3 linked regions of the Homo sapiens genome follow. The protein of the gene in region 2 purifies or fractionates together with the protein of the main gene of each other region. This does not show direct contact. Each region holds a gene or a part of one and is shown on either strand. Other genes may lie near its edges.

What was found.
Region 1: the proteins of C1orf162 (region 2) and KIAA1143 purify together in Homo sapiens (affinity purification with mass spectrometry; 2 studies listed by BioGRID and IntAct, with this or other methods). This does not show direct contact.
Region 3: the proteins of C1orf162 (region 2) and CRNN purify together in Homo sapiens (affinity purification with mass spectrometry; 2 studies listed by BioGRID and IntAct, with this or other methods). This does not show direct contact.

Annotation. Positions count from the first base shown.
Region 1 is NC_000003.12:44,757,749-44,767,095, forward strand, and holds the start of KIAA1143 (uncharacterized protein KIAA1143), read right to left. Parts: upstream 3,872-9,347; 5' UTR 3,855-3,871; coding exon 3,747-3,854; intron 1-3,746. Other genes in the region: kinesin-like protein KIF15, read left to right, coding at 4,118-4,136.
Region 2 is NC_000001.11:111,469,444-111,476,983, forward strand, and holds the start of C1orf162 (transmembrane protein C1orf162), read left to right. Parts: upstream 1-4,540; 5' UTR 4,541-4,587; intron 4,588-6,574; 5' UTR 6,575-6,577; coding exon of another isoform or gene 6,578-6,585; coding exon 6,586-6,622; intron 6,623-7,354; coding exon 7,355-7,424; intron 7,425-7,540.
Region 3 is NC_000001.11:152,407,948-152,412,184, forward strand, and holds the end of CRNN (cornulin), read right to left. Parts: coding exon 4,149-4,237; intron 2,997-4,148; coding exon 1,647-2,996; 3' UTR 1,296-1,646; downstream 1-1,295. UniProt on the Homo sapiens protein: Promotes cell proliferation, G1/S cell cycle progression and induces expression of the cell cycle regulator CCND1. Regulates proliferation induced by pro-inflammatory cytokine response via activation of NFKB1 and PI3K/AKT signaling pathways.

The sequences.
Region 1 (9,347 bases), on a different chromosome or scaffold from region 2:
CTTGTGAAAATAGGGCAGGAAGTGTTAAAGAACATGGCATTTTGGAGATCCATCTCTTCGTCCTTTCAGAGCCTGCGACAGTGCATGGGGTTAGCACATACTCATTCTACTGGCATACCTTGAAGATACCGCAGATTTGGTTCCAGACCACCACAACAAAGCAAGTATCAAAATAAATTGTCACACAAATTTTCTGGTTTCCCAGTTCACATAAAAGTTATGTTCACACTATACACTAACTACAGTTAGTATTAAGTATGCAATATCATTATGTCTAAAAAAATCTAGATCCCATTAAGTACACGATTCATGGGAGGAGGCAAAATATCAACATTAACAGGAGTCTGGAAGATGTACCTACCTTAATTTAAAAATACTTTATTGCTAAAAACATTAAAAATCATCTGAGCCTTCAGTGAGTCCTAATCTTTTTGCCAGTGAAGGGTCTGCCCTTGATGCTGATGGATGTTGACTGATGAGGGTGGTGGTTGCTGAAAGGCGGGGTGGCTGTGGCAATTTTTAAAAATAAGACGATGAAGTTTGCTGCATTGAGTCTTCCTTTCACAAAAGATTTCTCTTTTGTGATGCTGCAATGCTGTTTCATAGCATTTTACCCACAGCTGAACTCCTTTCAAAATTGGAATCAGTCCTCTTAAACCTGCTGCTGCTTTACCAAGTAAGTTTATTCTAAATCCTTTATTGACATTTCAACAATGTTCACAGCATCTTCACCAGAAGTAGATTCCATCTCAATAAACCACTTTTTTTGCTCATCAATAAGAAGCAACTCATCTGTTCAATTTTTATGAGACTGCAACAACTTAGTCACATTTTCAGGCTCTACTTCTAATTCTAGTTCTTTTGCTTGTTCTACCACACCTGCAATTACTTCCTCCACTGAAGGCCTGAATCTCTCGAAGTCATCCATGAAGGTTGGAATCAACCTCTTCCAAATTCCTGTTAATGTTGATATTTTGCCCTCTTCCCATGAATCATGGATGTTCTTAACGTGTTTAGAATGGTGAAGCCTTTCCATAAAGTTTTCAATTTACAATATCCAGATGCATCAGAGGAATCACTATCCATGGCAGCTGTAGCCTTACAAATGGTTTTGACTTTTTTTTTTTTTTTTGAGACAGGGTCTGGCTCTGTTACCCAGGCTCGAGTGCAGTGGTGCAATCATGGCTGACTGCAGCCTCAACCTACCTGGGGTCAGGGAATCCTCCCACCTCAGCCTCCCAAGTAGCTGGGACCACAGGTGCATGCCACCACACTGGGCTAAATTTTGTATTTTTTGTAGAGATGGGGTCTCACCATGTTGGCCAGGCTGGTCTTGAACTCCTGGGCTCAAGCAATCCACCTGCCTTGACTTCCCAAAGTGCTGGGATTACAAGTGTGAGCCATTGCGCCTGGCTGTTATTTCTTAAATAATAAGACTGAAAATAGAAATTACTCCTTGATCCATGGGCTGCAGAATGGATGTTGTGTTAGCAGGCATGAAAACCCCACGTTAATCTCCTTGTAGATCTCCATCAGAGTTCTTGGGTGACCAAGTGTATTGTCCATGAGCAATAATATATTGAAAGAATCTTTTTTTTTCTGAGCAGTAGGTCTCAACAGTGGGCTAAAAATAATTCAGTAAACCATATTATAAAGAGATGTGCTGTCATCAAGGTTTTGTTTTTCCATTTCTAGAGCACAGGCAGAGTAGATTTAGCATAATTCTTACGGACCCTAGGATTTTTGGAATGGTAAGTATTAGCTTCAACTTAAAAGTCACCAGCTGCATTAGCTCCTAATGAGAGAGTTAGCCTGTCCTTTGAAAATATGAAGCCAGGCACTGACTTCTCTCTAGCTATGAAAGTCCTAAATGGCCCAGGCATAGTGGTTTTTGAGAGGCTTTGAGAGGCTAAAGTGGGAGGATTGCTTGAGTCCAGGAGTTTGAGACCAGCCTTGGCAACACAGTGGAATCCTGTCTCTACAAAAAAATACAAAAATTAGCCAGATGCGTTAGTTCATGCCTGTAGTCCCAGCTGCTTGAGAGGCTGAGGCAGGAGGATCACTTGAGCCCAGGAGGTCAAGGCTGCAGTGAGCTGTGATTGCACCACTGCACTCTAGCCTGGGCGACAGAGTGAGACCCTATCTCAAAAAAAAAAAAAAAAAAAAAGTCCTAGATGGCATCTTCTTCCAATAGAAGGCTGTTTCATCTACATTGAAAACCTGTTTAGTGTAGCCACCTTCATCAACTATCTTAGCTAGATCTGAATAATTTGCTTCTTCATCTCATACTTTTATGTTATGGAGATGGCTTCTTTCCTTAAACCTCATGAACCAACCTCTGTTAGCTTCACACTTTTCTTCTGCAGCTTTCTCACATGTCTCAGACTTCACAGGATTTAAGAGTTAGGGCCTTGCTCTAGATTAGGCTTTGGTTAAAGGGAATGTTGTGGCTGGTTTGCTCTTCTATCCAGACCACTAAAACTTTCTCTGTATCAGCAATGTAGCTGTTTTGCTTTCTTGTCATTCATGTGTTCAATACTGATCCCTCCGGCCCTAGACAACAATAGTCAGGTGTGGCTCTTTCCTGAAGCTCCTCTTCTTCTATTTAGACCCAGGATATTTACGGCTTCTGCTTACTCTTCTTTTTTTTCTTTTTTTTGAGACGGAGTCTCGCTCTGTCGCCCAGTCTGGAGTGCAGTGGCGCGATCTCGGCTCACTGCAAGCTCCTCCTCCTGGGTTCACGCCATTCTCCTGCCTCAGCCTCCCGAGTAGCTGGGACTACAGGCGCCCGCCACCATGCCTGGCTAATTTTTTGTATTTTTAGTAGAGACGCGGTTTCACTGTTTTAGCCAGGATGGTCTCGATCTCCTGACCTCGTGATCTGCCGCCTCAGCCTCCCAGAGCGCTGGGATTACAGGCGTGAGCCACCAGGCCCGGCTTTTTTTTTTTTTTTTTGAGACGGAGTCTCGCTCTGTTGTCCAGGCTGGAGTGCAGCTGCGCCATCTCAACTCACTGCAACGTCCACCTCCCGGGTTCGAGCGATTCTGTCTCAGCCTCCGGAGTAGCTGGGACTACAGGCATGTGCCACCATGCCCGGCTAATTTTTGTATTTTTAGCAGAGACGGGGGGTTTCACCATATTGGCTATTGGCTCTGCTGGTCTCGAACTCCTGACCTCAGGTGATCCGCCCACCTAGGCCTCCCAAAGTACTGGGATTACAGGCGTGAGCCACTGTGCCCGACCTTCTCTATATTATTTTTATTTATTTTTAATTAACAAAGCATAGAAACAGATTCAGGACATTCCTCCGAAGACGTTCCAGACTCGAGTCCTAGGACATGGTTGGGGCGGGGGTCATTTGATCGAGTGGCCTGTGTCCTTATCTGGAATACGGGACGACGCTGTAACTCTAACTCACCCTGCGAACTCACAGCTTTTGAGGTAAACAAGTGAGAAAGAAGAGACAATAAAGTGATCTTTCTTTACCATCTACCAAGGACCAGGTGGTTTACACGTCAGTTCATTTTCAGGAACACAGCAGCGCTCTGAAAACTACAGAGCTTCCTGGGCGTAGGGGGCTGTGGTCGCTTGAAAAGAACCAGCCTGGGGGTCCGAGTTCCACCGGAATTGGGTTCGAGCGCGGGTGAAAAGAGGGACCCGACAGCACCCACCCTCCAAGTAGAGGCAAAAGTTGAAAGTGGCGGGCTGGCTGCGCTTCCGAAGAAACACGACTGGCGAAGGCTCACCTTAGTCTCTACGGTGGGTCCCTCCCTGTAGCCGACCCGTTCCTTGAAGCGGGCCAGAAACGCCGGCTCGGCTGGCCGCACGTACGATACCTGGTTCCGCTTGCTCATGGTAGCTCTGGGTAAAGACAGAAGACAGGTTCCGCGACGGATTCGCGACGATACAGAGGCGCTTAGCTGTGACGTCACTGGGCCACGCCCCCGATGCGTAGGCCGGGCAACATGGCGGCCTCCATGCGGGCGTCAACGTCCGATCCAAGCGCCAAATTCAAATTTGCGGCCATCTTGAGCGGGCGGAATTCAGTCGCGCGCGGTGCAGTCGGGAGGTGGAGGCACCGGCTGCATTGTTTTCGGGATCGAGGGGTGAGGGCGCTATGGCACCCGGCTGCAAAAGTAAGTCTGGGCCCCCGGCTTCGTTACCCTATTTTTGCCCCCAAATACAGCTGTGAAAGGATGGCAGCCTCGGACCGCCCGCAAGGTTCTTGCTAGGCATGAACTGCAGGAGCTGAGTGACCGGCGGGGACGTTTGGGAATCCCGCTCTGTCGCTCAAAGACAATACGCTAGCCGAAAAGCTCATCCCTTCCTTCAGTGTCCTGTGCGCATGCCAGGAGTCTGGCGCAGTTCTAGGCGCTCGGGATGAGCAGTGGACCTGACGTTCTTCCCTTTCTTTCCCTTGGTTCTGCTGTTTCTTCGCAGGCCTCTTCCCACATCCCGACCAGGGCTACCTCTCTAGATATCCTTGTCTCAGGATCGGCTTTTGCTCCCACCAGCTTCTGCGTATTTCTACATTTCTGACCTTCCTATAGGGAAGGGTTTATTTATATTCCAAACATTTCTTTCTCCTCTTTCCTTAAATAAATGGAATGTTAAAACACAGATGTCAGCAATGTCTTTATGTTCTCACAGTCTCTATTTTCACTTAAAGGAGACCCGTCCGATTTCTTTCTCTTTTTCACGGAGGAGAGCACTGTCATTTTGCTTATGATAAACCCTACAGTTTTCACTAACGTAGTCATTTGCTGTGCCTGTGTACGTGCTCCACTTCTCACATTGCCACATCTCTTAAGGAGTCTTATTTTTGTAAACCTGATTATGAGCTGATTTAATGGGATCTTTGTGAGTGGTCTGAATGGTAATGAGGAGAGGCCTGGATTAGATGATTAAGAATTTGTGAACTTCTGTCATTTGAGCTTTCCAACGCCGTTAATGTTTCTAGCTTTCTGTCAATTGTAGTCGTTTTTGATGGGTTTGTTGTTTCATTAATCTTTTAGGTCGATCACACCTAATCGGAACACCTCCTTATGCTACCTTTTTGCATATAAAATATTCCTTTTCCTTTCATCATTTTCAGTATTCAAGGACTATGAGCTCACAAAATGGTACCTTATTGGAGAGAAATGTTCATCCTGCTTTCTGAACAATCATACTGTTTGTTCTTTGTTTCCACTTTATGGATCAGTCACTAAATCTGGACTCAAGCAAAAAATTTGATGCCTGTTAAATAAGTAAAACATCTGCTTATTTAATGAGATATATGTATGTGACTGAGGGCTCTTGTCTGAAAACCAAATTTGAGAACCTTTCTAAAGTGGTGGGAGCACTCTCCTTTATGATGGTGGTGATGCCATGGGGAACTTTTCCACTCCTTTAAGTTTGTTGGCAAAATTGAGGTTGATGACTTCCCAGTTAAAGTGCTTCTTGCATTCCCAGCAGCCCAGAGGCCTGGAGCATGAAGTGGGAACACATGGGAGAAGAGAGCCCGTGCAGTGGTCTTTGCAACTTTTACTTTGTGCCCCGAAGGCTATCTCTCTCTCTCTTTTTTATTTTTGAGACAGAGTCTTGCTCTATTGCCGGGCTGGAGTGCAGTGGTGCGATATTGGCTCACTGCAACCTCCGCCTCCCGGGTTCAAGAGATTCTCCTGCCTGAGTCTCCCAAGTAGCTGGGATTACAGGCACGCGCCACCATGCCCAGCTAATTTTTTTATTTTTAGTAAAGCCGGGGTTTCACTGTGTTGGCCAGGATGGTCTCGATCTCCTGACCTCGTGATTTGCCCACCTTGGCCTCCCAAAGTGCTGGGATTACAGGCATGAGCCACCACACCCGGCCCCATGAAGGCTATCTCTAGTGACATCATTGACACCATGAGTTGCTGACTGTGAAATCAGAGAAATGAAAAAGTGAAATATACGATTCCCCCCTTTTTTTTTTTAAAGACAGTGTTGCTCTGTCACCCAGGCTGGCTGGAGTGCAGTGACGCAATCTTGGCTCACTGCAATCTCCACCTCCTGGGTTCAAGCAGTACTCGTGCCTCAGCCTCCCAAGTAGCTGGGACTACAGGCGTGCACCACCATGCCCTGCTAATTTTTTGTATTTTAGTAGAGACAGGGTTTCACCATGTTGCCCAGGCTGGTCTTGAACTCCTGAACTCAAGCAATCCACCTGCCTTGGCCTCCCAAAGTGCTAGGATTACAGGCGTGAGCCACTGCACCTGGCCTAAGATTCCCTTTCTGAACCCAATCATGTTTGGGCAAATGACTGATGAGTATTTATCTAGACTGCAGAGTAAAGCATCCAATGGTCTGTTTTAAAGCAGGAAGACTCTTTAAAAGACTTACTGTTTTGTTGAGGTATAGCTTCATGCAGTTAAGGGCACAAATCTTAATATTATTCAACAAATTTTTACATATAAATACACTAATGTAACCACCATCCAGATCAAGAAATAGAACTGTTCCTGTACTCCAGAAAGTTCCCTGTGACCCTTCCTAGTCAATAACTACCTGATCCCCAACCATTACTCTGATTATTATTATCACTGATTAGTTTTGCTTCTATTCTTGAACTTAATATAAATGGTACAGTATGTATTCTTTTTTTATTCTGGTTTCTTCAACTGAACATTATGTCTGTGATCATTGTCCATCATTGTATGTAGCAGCAGTTCTTTTTCATTGCTGTGTAGTGTTCCATTATGTGAGTATACCATGATTTGTTTATTCTCCTGTTGATTGACATTTGGGTTTTTATTATAGTTAGGGCTGTTATGAATAAAGCTACTGAGAATAGACTTAAGCATATTTTTAGATGGACACATAGAGGACCTCAAAGTTGAAAGAATTTTACAGTGAATGCCTATAGACTTCATTTTTTTCTTTTCTTTTTTGAGACAGAGTCTTGCTCTGTCACCCAGGCTGAAGTGCAGGGGTGCGATCTTGGCTCACTGCAACCTCCATCTCTGTTCAAGTGATTACTCCTGCCTCAGCCTCCTGAGTAGCTGGGACTACAGGCAACCACCACCAAGCCTGGCTATTTTTTATATTTTTAGTAGAGGCAGGGTTTCACCATATTGGCAAGGCTGGTCTCAAACTCCTGACCTCAAATGATCCACCCACCTTGGTCTCCCAAAGTGTTGGGATCACAGGTGTGAGCCACTGCACCCAGCCTAGACTTCCTTTAAATGTCAAAATTTTATGACAGCCACATGATAAACTTTTATACTCTCTTTAACCTTTGATCAAGAGGTAGCATATTGAGGTGGTTAAGAGTAGGAGATCTGGATTTAGCATGCCTTCGTTCAAATCCTAGCACTTCTCAATGATGTTTCCTTAGATCTCAATTAGAAATAATGCCAGAACTATCTACATTTGTGTAGTTTTAAATTTCACTTTCTCTCGCTATTTGCTTATTAACTTTTCTTCTTTTTTTATCAAGTAAACATTTTACTTTGGGTTCCTTTTAGATTTACCAGAAAGTTGCACATAAGTGCAGATCAGTATCCATCTAATCATTTTCCATCTGATCAGTTACAGAGATCTCTGCAGAAATGAAGAGCTGGCAGCCTACCTTCTGGGGCTTCTTATTGTTGTTTGCTTGTGTATTTGCTTAGCAACTGGCTGGATCAATTTAGTGAAGTCTATTTCCCTCCTATACTGTTAAGCCTTTGATATTGCTCCTCAGGAATCCAAAGCTCCAGCTTTGGATATGCCCACCTTTATCCTGGGATGACAGTGGTTTTGGTAGGGATCTCTTTCTTTCTATGACTGCACACAGCTGTTAAACTCCAGTAATTGTTAGCTGATTGCTCTATTGTTTTTTAACAATGCCCTGGGCATAAATTGTCTTACAAACTACTTCAATTCTTGCTCCATTGAAGGAGTAGTTTTTGAGGTTTTCTTTCATATTTCTTGTGACTCCAGTGTAGCTACTCCTAATTGTCTTATATCCCCATTGTCTTCTGCAAGTGAACAGGCCTGCAATTTAGCTTGTATCTTGAATGTCTTCCTAATTACTTTCACTAAAACCTACACTGTTCCTGAGAGTGCCCTTAGGTTTGAACTTCTCTCCACCCCCTCTCCCCCAGACGGAGTCTCGCTCTGTCACCTAGGCTGTACCACAGTGGCGTGGACTCAGCTCACTGCAACCTCCACCTCCTGAGTTCAAGCGATTCTCCTGCCTCAGCCTCCCAAGTAGCTGAGATTACAGGCATGTGCCACCATGCCCAGCTAATTTTTGTTTTGTATTTTTAGTAGAGAGACGGGGTTTCACCATGTTGGTCAGGCCGGTCTCAAACTCCTGACCTCAAATGATCTACCTGCCTCGGCCTCCCAAAGTGCTGGGATTACATCATGAGCCACCACACCTAGACAGGTTTGAACTTCTCTATGCTTTGTTGCAAATGAATTCAGCTCCTTTGGGAAGAGATTAGGAGTTATCTGTTTATGGGCTGATTCTTCCTTTAGGCAAAATCTCAGAGCCTGGGGACTTGAGTTGGGGATGGGGATAATGGCAGTCTTGTCTCTGAGTGATACCCTTTGTAGTTGCTGAGCATTTTGTGGGGAAGGTGGGGAGTGTAGCAGCCCACCTTCTAGACTTTCCTTTCCTTGTGCAGAACCACTGCCTAATGAGTTGGGGCAAGGGTGATCAGGGCCCCAGTGTTCTTAGCATGCAGTTGCAAGATGAGGGCTGTGTGGGAGAAGGGAGAGCCCTCACCTCTCAACCACACTTGTCTGGGACTTTATCTGAGCATCAGGTAGCTAGCTGGAGACACAATGATACACTGACATCCTGCTACTCTGTGGAGGAACCCCTTGCAATTAGGAGCTGGAGGGATCCCTGTGTTCTTGGCTGCTGCAATCTACAGTGGAGTGTTTGCCTTGCTGAGATGGGAGGGAGACAGCAATCTTGTTTCAAATAACACAGGATCAACTTTCTTGATGAATTTTCATGAATGTTCTTGAACAGATGTTTCTTGGTTTGCTGTTTGTCTTTGGGAACATTTCCAGAGGCTTTAATTTTCTTTTCTTTTCTTTCTTTCTTTTTTTTTTTTTTTTTTTTTGAGATGGAGTCTCACTCTGTCTCCCAGGCTGGAGTGCAGTGGCGTGATCTCGGCTCACTGCAAGCTCCGCCTCCTGGGTTCACGCCATTCTCCTGCCTCAGCCTCCTGGGTAGCTGGGACTACAGGCGCCTGCCACCATGCCTGGCTAATTTTTTGTATCTTTAGTAGAGACGGGGTTTCACCGTGTTAGCCAGGGTGGTCTCGATCTCCTGACCTCGTGATCCGCCCGCTTCGGCCTCCCAAAGTACTGGGATTACAGGTGTGAGC
Region 2 (7,540 bases):
ATAGTAAGACCTGTCTTAAAAAAAAAAAAAAAAGAAAAGAAAAGATCTACCCAAAATCTCAGTAGCTCAATACAGAAAAGTTTACTTTTTGCTCATATAGAGTCTACTGGGGGTCCAAGTGACTCCCCAGAGAAACTGTCCTCCATATGTTGACTCAGTGATCCAGGGTTAGAACTCTTACCTTCACCTTCCCATCATAAAATCTCCATTGTTGTGGGAGGGGGTCAGAGCAGGTTTTGCATTAGCAATTAAATGCTTTGGCTAAATGAGACATGCATCACTTCATTCACTACCCATTGGCCAGAACTTGTCACATGACATTACCCAACCACAAGGGAGGCTCCACACAAGAAGGAGAGGAGAACTGGTTATTGGTGAGAACTAGTACTGTCTACCACACAAATCTAGATCTCTTTTGTGAGCCCCAGATCTGTGCATCCAACTGCTCTCTCAACATCTTTACCTAAATGTTCCACAGGCACCCCAAACCCAATGTGTCCAAAATTAAACTCATTATTTTTTCCCAATCCTATAACCCCTTATTTTATATTATCAACATTAGTTGATGGATACAACGCAGGAAACCTAGTTATTGCCACATCCCCTCTCTCTCTTACTTTCCTCTCACACCTAATAAATGACTAGACTCATCACCTATCTGCTCTACCTCTTCCCCATGGCCATTGCCGCTATTCAGATCATCCTAGTTTCTCACTTGGAACTCTGCAACACCAAAGGATTCTTCACCCACTGTCTGGCACCTCACCAGTCCCCCCTACACTCTGTTGCCTAAACCCAAATGTGCTTGTGTTAGTCCTCTTCAGCAGTCTTTCCATTGCCTATACGGGTAAAATATGTTTAGGGCCCGCCATTACCTGGTTTTATCTATCCTCTCCAGCCTTTCCTCTTCCATCACCCACCCTTATCCTATCCTCATTCCCCATAGCACCACCTATGGTGAAATACTTGCATTTCCCTAAACTCAACCATCGTGCCAAAGCATGCCCTTGTTTACCCTGTCCCTCTACCTGGAATACACTTCCTCCCTCGCTCTGCCTAGAAAATTATTCATCTTTCAAGGTGCAACTCAAACATTGTCTCCTCTATGAGGCTTTTCTTGACACCTATCCTCCCTCCTTATTGTGTAGCCTGACCTCTTTGTTCATTGCATCTCACTCTATCCTGTACGGATGTCTCACATCTACAATATTTCATTATGCTTATTTATGTGACTGGCCAGTCTGGAACATGCTTTTGTAGATGAATGAAGATATCTGTCTCTCTGCAACGGACAGATCCCGCAAGTCAAGAACTGTTGTCTTACTCATTATTGAACCTCCAGAGCTTGACAGGGTGTTTTCGTAGGTGCTAACTAAATGTCTGATTAATTAGTTAATCCTCCCTCTAAGTCTTGAAATACCGCTGTTTCCTTCTGTGGCTCCTCTTCCTCCTTCTTGCCCTTTGGTTGTATCTTTGATCATTGTCTAATCTTTTATCCCCCCTTGTTTTTGCTGCCACCTTCCTAAATATCTCCCAAATCCATATATATCTCTTCATCTCTAGTGCTACCATCCTAGTCCACATTACTATTACCCTCCTCAACTGTATCACTGCAGTAATCTCTCAGCCGGTCTATTCATATCTATTCTGGCTAACTTCCAATCTGTTTGCTCCAGTTTTAGTGATTGTTCCGTAATGCAAACCTGATCATGTCACCCTTGCTTAAATATCTTTAGTACAGATAAACCCACTTCTCTTAAAGACAAAAGTTGTGACGGACTGGCCCCTTCCTGCCTATTCAACCTCATCCTCATCATGCTCCACCCTCTGCCCACAACCCAGTGCCACCTCACATACTTCCTCTTTCAGCTTTTGTCAAACTAGTCTTTTTTTTTTTTGCCCTTCAACTTCCTACCTTCCTTCTGGCACAGGATTTTTAAATGTTCTGTTCCCTCTGAACTTTCCCTTCCTCTTGTTCTAGTGGAACTGCAACTCACATTTCAGATTTCAGCTTAAGTGTTGGGTCATTTTGTTATGTTTTTTGGCTCTAGGAAGGCTTCCCTGGTCCTCTTCCCCTCTGTTGTAGGCATCCATGGCACAGGGTCCTGATCCTTCACAGCACACTTAACAATCACAATTTACCATTTCTTTGTGTGGTAAGGGCCTCCTTTACTAGTCTGAAAGTTCCATGAAGGCAGCCCCTCACGCTCGTCATAATATCCTTAAAGCTTAGAATGGTACACAGCACATAGTAAATGTTCAATAAATGTTTTGGAGTAAGTGAATGAAGAAATGAATTATCTCAGCAACTGAGGTTCAAAAACTTGAAGTAATCATTGACTCATCCTACTGTTTTATTCCCAATATCCAGGTCCCAAGTTATATGTCCTCCAATTTTATGATCCCTGTGGTTTCAGCCTATACCCTTACTACACAATACCCAGAATATCACCGTACCATCTAGCTTCTTTGTCTCTACCCACAATTTATCTTATATGATATGGTACAATCTGTCATAAAGGCTATGTTTATCATGTTATATCTCAATCAAAAATATTTAGTGTTTATTTTTTAAATATTTCAAATATGTCTTGCTTGGACTTAAAGCTCCCCACCATCTGGCTGCAATCCATCTAAGTCAACTATTTTTCATCTCCCACCCTCTCCAAATGCCCCTCCCTATTTATTTATTTATTTATTTAAGCACTCTGTCACTCAGGCTAAAGTGCAATGGCATGATCGTGACTCACTGTAGCCTCAAACTCCTGGGCGCAAAGGATCCTCCTGCCTCAGCCCCCCAAAGTGCTGGATTACAGGCGTCAACCACCACACCCAGCCAAAATGTTCCACTCTTGAACTGTGCTAATATCCCAGAAATACATCACTTGAATTTCAGCAACCAACCCTGGGCCTAGGGCACCCCTCCCACAGCCCTTTCTCCCTCCATCCATCCAAAGCCTATCCACGCTCAAGGTTTACCTGAATACTTCCTTGCCTGATTTCTCCAGCTCTGCCAGCTGTGAGTTACTCTTCTCCACGTGGAAACCTCTTCCCCAGACTCTGTGCCTGGCTAGCTCCTTCTCATCTTCGAGTTCTCTAAGTGGAAATGTGCACTCCTTAGAGAAGCCTTCCCCAGTCCTCCATCTTCTCTGAAGACATTCTCCCAGTGTATTCTGTCTAGCTAGCACTCTTTTTTTTCCCTCAAGGCCCTTAATACAATGTGTCATTGACTTATCATTTACTTGTTTTTCATTTCTCTTCTCAATTATGTGGTAGAGTCTGTGAGGCAAGGAACTTTTCTGCCTTGCTCTCCGAAAAACCTGTAATAATCTGGTCAGTTATTAAACCTATATAACCTGGTCAGGCACAGTGGCTCACGTCTGTAATTCCAGCACTTTGCGAGGCCAAGGCAGGCGGATCACCTGAGGTCGGGAGTTCAAGACCATCCTGACCAATATGGTGAAACCCGTCTCTACTAAAAATACAAAATTAGCCGGGCATGGTGGCGCATGCCTGTAATCCCAGCTACTTGGGAGGCTGAGGCAGGAGAATTGCTTGAGACCAGGAGGTGGAGGTTGCAGTGAGCCAAGGTTGCAACATTGCACTCTAGCCTGGGCAACAAGCATGAAATTCTGCCTCAAAAAAAAAAAAAGAAAGAAAAAAAAAGAAAAAAAAAACCCTATAATACTAGCTCACTGTATGGCCTATAGCATTTACTTAATGAGTATATTTATTAATATTATTTTACAAATAAATATTTATAAAGAAATGATTCGCCTTCCCTTTGAAGGGATCTTAACACTCTTAACACATTTGAAGTCTGCACAGCTAGTACTTAACTCTTAGCACTGTTTGCTCTTCATTTTTCATTATCAGCCTCATCTCCCTGGTTAGAATAGATGAGATTATAAGGTTTTTGATGACAATGTCATACTGATGCGACCTCCACAGTAAATCTGGCACAGTGGTTAAAGTAAACACTTAATAAATATTTAATTAGCAAGAAACCTGTCTTGCCTCCTTATGTTCTGTCATTCATGTGTCAGACACAAAGAAAAGGTACAAAAGAAAGATTAAAAAATCATAATGTTGGGCTGGGCACGGTGACTCAGGCCTGTAATCCCAGCACTTTGGGAGGCCGAGGCGGGTGGATCACGAGGTCAGGAGATCAAGACCATCCTGGCTAACACGGTGAAACCCCGTCTCTATTAACAAAATACAAAAAATTAGCCGGGCGTGGTGGCGGGCGCCTGTATTCCCAGCTACTCGGGAAACTGAGGCAGGAGAATGGCGTGAACCCGGGAGGCAGAGCTTGCAGTGAGCCGAGATAGCGCCACTGCACTCCAGCCTGGGCCACAGAGCGAGACTCCGTCTCAAAAAATAAAATAAATCATAATGTTGACCTCAAAGAGGAAGCCTACCGTTGAGTTTAGTAAGATCTTTGCTACACACAATGTGATGCTGGCAGTGGCAGGGGCAGTAATCTTTATTTCGTCATTTTTGAAACATAGAAGCCGTAACGGAAGCAAGTGAAATGCTCAGTCTTAGACGACTGCGTCGTGCTATGACCGGACTTTTTCTTGAAAGGTAAATGCATTTACCACATGCTTTTAATCTAGATTAAATAATCACTCACCAAAAGAAAGTGTCGTCTAATTGTTAGTGGTTTCTATCACTTGTTTTCTTTGATGCAGGAAGGGTTGTATTTGAATGGTTCTATTAAGTTGATGGATTTTACGCTATCAGTAAGATTCTCCAGTGCTGGATGAAACGTGAAAAAGTATATATAGCACCGCTTCTATTTTAATTTATGCTTCTGCCAACTGTTTGGGTTGTGCTGAAAGGGAAATATATTTCCTGCTTTTCTTGGCCTGGATTTGTGAGTAGCTATTTCCCTGTGGTATTGTACGATGATTTTGTCCATTTATGTGAAAGTTAGGGTGGGGTGGCCTAATGTTTTCACAGCGGCTATGGTAACATTTTTGTAAATTCAGAACTGCTACTGTGAATTTCAGGATTTTACAGAAACCTATGATCCTATCTTCTTCCACCTCTCCAGTGGCAAAGCCTAGTGTAAGCTCATACTCTGTTTAGCACCAGCATATATTTCAATATTTTAAAAATATTATGTCAATATTTTATGATGGTCTGCAAAGAGCACCACTGACTTACAAGTTAGAAAAGGAGCAAAAAGTGTGAGAAAAATTACCACTGCCGATTCTGCTGCGGACTGTGGGCCTCCTATTCTCATGGCTCAGATTCCTCAACACATTTTCCCGTTGGCCCTTTTCTTATCTGACATTGCATGATCTAAAAATGTTTGGTGAATTGTAAGGTACTTGGTAATGTTGTTGTTGCTGCTATTGTAACAGGTACAGGGCGATGAGGTGTCCTTCTCCCAACCCTCCCACAGGTCCAAGGACTTGGAAGTTAACTTTTGAGAGCTGAACAATAAAACAATAAATAATTGATGACATTTGTTTAAAGAAATGACCTTAAAATATAGAAGAAATAACAAAGCCAAAACATTTTCCCATGAGTTTGCCTAAATACAAAGTAAAATTTTGGCCTCCTAAAAAAAAAAATCAGGGATGCATACAATGTTTTATGCACAAAAATATCTCTTTCATTGTTATTGATTTAAATAAAAATGGAAACAATTCTATCAGTAAGTGGGGAATTTGTTAAGCAAGTTATAGTACATAGCTATAATGGAAAGACCTATCACCACTAAAAAATGTTATAAAAAGTTTTTAGTGACATAGAAGAATGTGTATGGCAAAATGCTGAGTGTAAAAGGAAGATATAACCTCTTATAAAAAGAAATATCTCAAGTAGCTTTTTAAAAAATGCATGGAAGTCTGACTAAAAGGAAAGACACTAAAAACATTAATGAGTAGTAGGAGTTTGGGTGATTTCACTTTCCTGCCTTTAGATATTTTATACATTTTGATATAAAGCCTAAACAAGAATATTGGCAAACTTGAGAAGATAATACGTGAACAGATTAGAAGTGTCTAATGAGGTCTAGAGTAAGGGTCTCCAAGAGCAAGTTTGTCAAAGTTTATGTAGCAATGCCAGGGAAGAGTAAGATTGATACATCAGACCCAGTTGGCAGTCAATATAAAAATCATCCATTCATCTTCTCTCATACTTACTTCAGTTCAGTGCTTACCAAGCAAATTTATGATTTTCATTGGCATTCTTATATGTTCCCCTGATAGGCAAAATTCACTGATTGCACCAACATGTACCTAATGTTATTTCGGCTTATACATCAGTCTCCTGTGAGTTGGTTGGTGGGAATCAGTTCTGGAGAAATCAGTCATTTCTTGGTGCCCTGATAAGATCAAATTTCTGGACCTGCAAACCTGAAGGCTGGCTGCTGAGCTGCAGAAACAACACCAGAATTGTTAACCACTGATGAGTGATCTGTGACCACTGATGGCACTAGAACACCCACAAATTGCCTCTCATTGTTACTACTCTTATATGACAATCACAGTCTCAGAGCTGGCCCTTAAGCCGGCTCTCCCTTCCAAGCTTTCTAAGAGATACCTTGTTTTATTCTCAGGGGATGACAGCATGGGAGGCAATGGCTCCACATGTAAACCCGACACTGGTGAGTTTACGACAGGAATAATTACCTGCCTCACGTCTGAGTTAAAATAACTAGAAATTGTGCTGAAGGGCTGTAATGGAAAGGCACTAGCTAGTGCATTTCTGAAACTGGAAGAATCCAATTTTACCAGGACACAGAATTTAATGCCAGGAGGGGTGAAAGGGGGAACCACAGAGACCTGCCTGGCCCTCCAAATCTGAGTAAAGGGTGTCTCTGCTCAATATCAAACTAGGTGGGTCCTGCTCCCCTATTTGTGGTGTAGGCATTGGGAAAACCACTGTGGCTGTTTTTGGCTAGGCACTGCTAATAGCTGCTCTGCAAAAAGGGCAAACATAAAAGGGCAGCAGTTTCAAGGTCAAATTCCCCAAGGACTTTGGGAAGCATTTGTTGTTTCTCCCTAGCTGGGAGATGCTTTCCTTAGGCCAGAGGGAGCATATCTCTTCAGGAGTTCCTATTAAAATCTTTGAGGAGAGCAACATATGAGATTTTTTTTTTTAATCAAAGGAACACTAGGCTTGTATTTCATGTATGTAGTTGATTTTTAAGTTCTATTTTTCATTTAAAAGTACTTGGAATCTAAAAAACAATGTTCTCTCATTTTTGTAAGAGTTGCAGCCCCATCCTTAATTTCCACTGGTTGCTTGGGTAGAATGGGGCACCTGGGGAAACTTAAGCTGGAAGGGTATCATGAAAAGTGACAGATACACTAATTCCTTTTGTGTTTTCTTGTAGAAAGACAAGGCACTCTCTCCACAGCAGCCCCAACAACTAGCCCTGCACCCTGTCTCTCTAACCACCACAAGTAAATGAGCATTCTCCTATCTGTTTCATCTTGTACCACGTGGGATTTGATGTTGTGCTGACAGCCTCGGCTTGGGGATTTGGGCAGGGAGACTGGGGAGAAAGGACTAGAAACAG
Region 3 (4,237 bases), about 41 Mb from region 2:
GGAACCTTGTGATTATATTGGACTCACCCAGATAATCCAGAATAACCCCCCACCATCTCAAGATTCCTAACTTAATCACATCTGTGAAGTCCCTTTCTTGCCATATAAAGTGACATATTCACAGGTTTCTGAGATTAAGTCCCGGACGTCTTTGGAGGTTGTTATTTAGCCTACGTGTTGTTTTTGTTTGGTTGTTGTTTATTCCACATTTTGTTTTTTCCTTAGCGATTTCCCTTACTTCCTGTAAACCAGTAACACAGTGAAAAAAATGCTTTATGCAGGATCTAGTTATTTTGTCTTGGGAAATCTTTCAGATTATCTAGTCTTCTGTACTGACAAAAGCACAAGACCCCCAAGAAGTTTCTAAACAATATTAATTGGCTCCAAACCTTAGAACCAGCATCTGTAGGGTTAGGTTTATACATTTTTTTTTTTTTGAGATGGAGTCTTGCTCTGTTGCCCAGGCTGGAGTGCAGTGGCACAATCTCGGCTCACTACAACCTCTGCCTCCTGGGTTCAAGCAATTCTCCTGCCTCAGCCTCCTGAGTAACTGGGATTACAGGCATGTGCCACCATGCCCAGCTAATTTTTATATTTTTAGTGGAGGTGGGGTTTCACCTTGTTGGCCAGGCTGGTCTTGAACTCCTGGCCTCAGGTGATCCGCCCACCTAGGCCTCCCAAAATGCAGGGATTACAGGTGTGAGCCACCACGCCCGTCCCTATAAATCTTTATTTTAAAACTGTTCTTCTGGTCACTCTTAAAATAAACCAGAATTGATAGTCTCTACCCCATAACATGGTTTATATCTGGTGGGTGAGACATCATGAGAGGTCAGAGCTGACACTGAGGGGGAGGTAGGAAGGGAAGCACAAAATTCTGGCCCCTGGCTCAGTACCTGGTAACACAAGCTTTCTCGCTCTTTCCCTACACAGCCACTGGGGGCCTTCTTCCATTTCTTGGTAATCTTAAATCAGCTTTCCTGTGTGACCTTACAGGTGAATAGCGGTTTAACGCTATAGAATTAGAGGTAGTGAAAGACCAAGAGGAATTTTGCCTATCTATCTAAATACTAATTGTCTTTTCAGGGCCATCATAAAGAAAGCGCCTTTTGTATGAAACCTTTGCTGGTCCATCTCTGCCAAGTATTAAGTATGATATATAGCAGGAATCTCATATAATATTTTCTCAACTAGTTGCTCTTCAAAGGTAGGGACTATGTCCAGTTCATCATCTCATAACTCTACAGCCTTTGGCCTGTAATATCAATAGAAGGTGGTTGAATGAGACACAGAGGCCAGTGGCTTAAGGTTTTATTGATGCATTAGGGTAGATGGGGCAATAGAGAGATGTCAGAGATAAAAATAGTCCTGAAACCCCCCACAAGATGAGGACAATTCAGTACAAAGGGGTGACTTGCTCTGAGTCTTCCTGCTCCTGAGAGGGTCTGCACCGCAAAGCAGGTAAGAAAGAAGAGTTCAGGATAGAAAGCTCCTTGCAGAAATTATCTCATTGAGAAAGACCTAAAAGGGAAGCTGCATAATGAAGAGCTGATGTCCAGGGATGCACCCACTGGATTGGCCATGCAGGACAAGCCAAACTCTCTCCAGCTGTCTTCTTCCAGTACTGGACATTGGAGTCGGGGAAGTCATGGCTTGGTGCTTCTCAAGTAGGAATACAGCTCTCTAGCTGTGATGCCTCGCTTCTCTTCTGACTGGGCTGCATCCTGGCCCTGTGCTGAGGAAACACTGGTATGCAAGTTGCCCTGGTCCAGCCTGAGGATCACTGTCTCCCTTGAGTGGTCATCAACCCATTCCTCACCAACCACTGTGGGCTGTCTGTCTCCCTGCCCTTCTGTCACACAGCGCCTTGGGTGAGTGCTGCTCCACTCCTGCCTTCCTGACTCAGTGCTTGCCCCAGTCTGGGCCTGTCCTCCCGGTACTGTCTCTCCTGCCTCAGGGTTGCTCACTTGCATCCATCTTTGACCACTGCCTGGCTGCGTCTGGGTCTGTCCCTGTTCTCTAGCCCCTCCGTGGCTTACAGTTTGGCTTCTGTCCTGCTCCACAGTCTCGGTGTGTGACCCTGCCTGTATCTGAGTGTGTCCTCCTGTCACAGCCTGGCTGGTCTGGCTCCTGCCTTGACCGTGGATCTCAGTCCCTCTGTTCTGGCCATTGGTGGACTCCTGTGTCTGGGTGCTGGTGCTTCCTGTCTGGTGGCTGCTGTCCTGCTCCACGGTCTGGGTGGGTGTCTGGGTGTGTGTCCCTGCCTGTATCTGAGCATGTCCTCCTGTCACAGCCTGGCTGGTCTGGCTCCTGCCTTGACCGTGGGTCTCAGTCCCTCTGTTCTGGTCATTGGTGGCCTCCTGTGTCTGCTTGCTGGTTCTTCCTGTCTGGTGGCTGCTGTCCTGCTCCACAGTCTGGGTGGCACCTGCCTGGGTCTGAGTTCCAGATCCAGTCACAGTCTCACCTGTCTGGTGGGCTCTGTCCTGTTCCCTGGTCTGTGGCTGTCTCTCTGGCCTCATCTCTGTTGTCTGATTCCTCTTGCCTTCTCCAGCTTTCTGGGTCTGCTCTGTCTGCCCAGAGAGTTGTATCTGCGGGCTTATTCTTTCCTGGCTCTGGGACTCAGCTTGCCTGTCATAGCTGCTGACCCACGCAGAGCCAGTGGCCTGACCCTGGGTCTGAACCCCAGGCCTGTTCTGCCCTCTGGAACCCTGCTGGCTCTGTCTGTGGCTGCTCCCCTCATAATGCTGCCCTTTCCCCGCCCTTCCCACTTCAGTGCCACTTCTCTGTCCTTCGCCCAGCTCCTGCGAGGCCCCAGAGTGGAGGCTTCCAGACTCTTGAGAGCCGCAGGCTCCCTCAGCACTCTCGCTCAGTGTCTTGAAACAGGCCTGGGCAACTTTAAACACTAAGACCAGGAATTCCTTGAATTCCACAGTCCCTGTGTGGTCTTCATCCAGCAGACGCAGGACCTCATCCACAGTTGCTGGATCGTGGGGTTTCTGAGGAGAAGATGAGGTGGAGTCAGCATCCCTCCCCTGAGGAGGACATGGGCAGGTCCCTTCCAATCTGCTGCCAGCTTCCCCTGCCTCAGACCCCACACTACACACACATACGGCTAGAGCAGCAGCAAGACTTAATTGCCTTTATTTTTTTTTAGTCCCGTCTCTCTCCCTCAAGTGTAGAGAGCATTTTTTGTTTGGTAGCCTCTATTTGGCACAATTTCTGGGCTACAGGAAAATTAGATAAAGATTTATTGAAGAGTTAATAAATTATTGAATTCACAATGCAACTGTTTGGGCTCTCAAGTTGACTGTCTGGGCTGCCCTTGGCACCTTGCCCCTGGCACTGAGGCCTTAGTCTCTTCAGCAGGCCCAGCACAAAGAGCAGCAGGTTGGGAACACAGCCCCATGGGAATTCTGTGCGCTCCTCATTGAGGCCCAGATGTTTCCCCATGATAAAGAGGGAGGGAAGCAGTGGGCCCCTGCAGCGCTGCCCTGAGCATGTGGATGCAGCATCCTTCTGTGCCCATATGTCCTTGTCCCTAAGGCCATCATCATCCTGGTTGCTTTAGATGCAAACCAAAGACAGGAAAGTGCATCAAGGCCTTGGTTCTGGTTTGCCAGGTGGGGTGGGGTGAGGCTCCAAAGTCTCCCCCTAGCTATTAACAACCTGCTCTTCAAAATTTCATTTCTGATGTGATCAGTCTGCTAATATTTTTGAGTAACTGCTTCGTGCAAGCCCAGAGCTATGCTTCTAATGAATGTCTATGAATGGATGATTACATTTCAGATAGACGTGGGAAATATTTACTGTATCAAATTTAAGAGGCGGCAGAAAGCAGCAATTATTTTCATTTTGAAATATTCCAAGGCTCTGCTCCTGTCTGAGTTGTCCTTTTAGAGCCCTTTTACCTTGTCTTTAAGTTAGAATTAATTAAAACCAAGGTTTTAATCTAAAGAGCCAGGACTTGCCAACTCCCATGACCATCTCTGGTTCTTTCACCTTTTTTTCTGCCTGCACAGCTGCCATCTGTCCCGGCAGGCCTGGGTTTAGCTGCTGCCTCCTCAAATTCCCCAGGCAAGGCCTCTGCAGGCAAACCAGGTTTCACTCTCCTGCTATGTCCCCTCTCCACCCGGCTCAGCACACCGTACCACAATCACATCGGCAAACTCTTGCTCCAAGAGTCTTTTCAGCTCCCCTCGGGTGAGCGCTGTGCAGTTGCCCTCCGTCCTTGCATAGC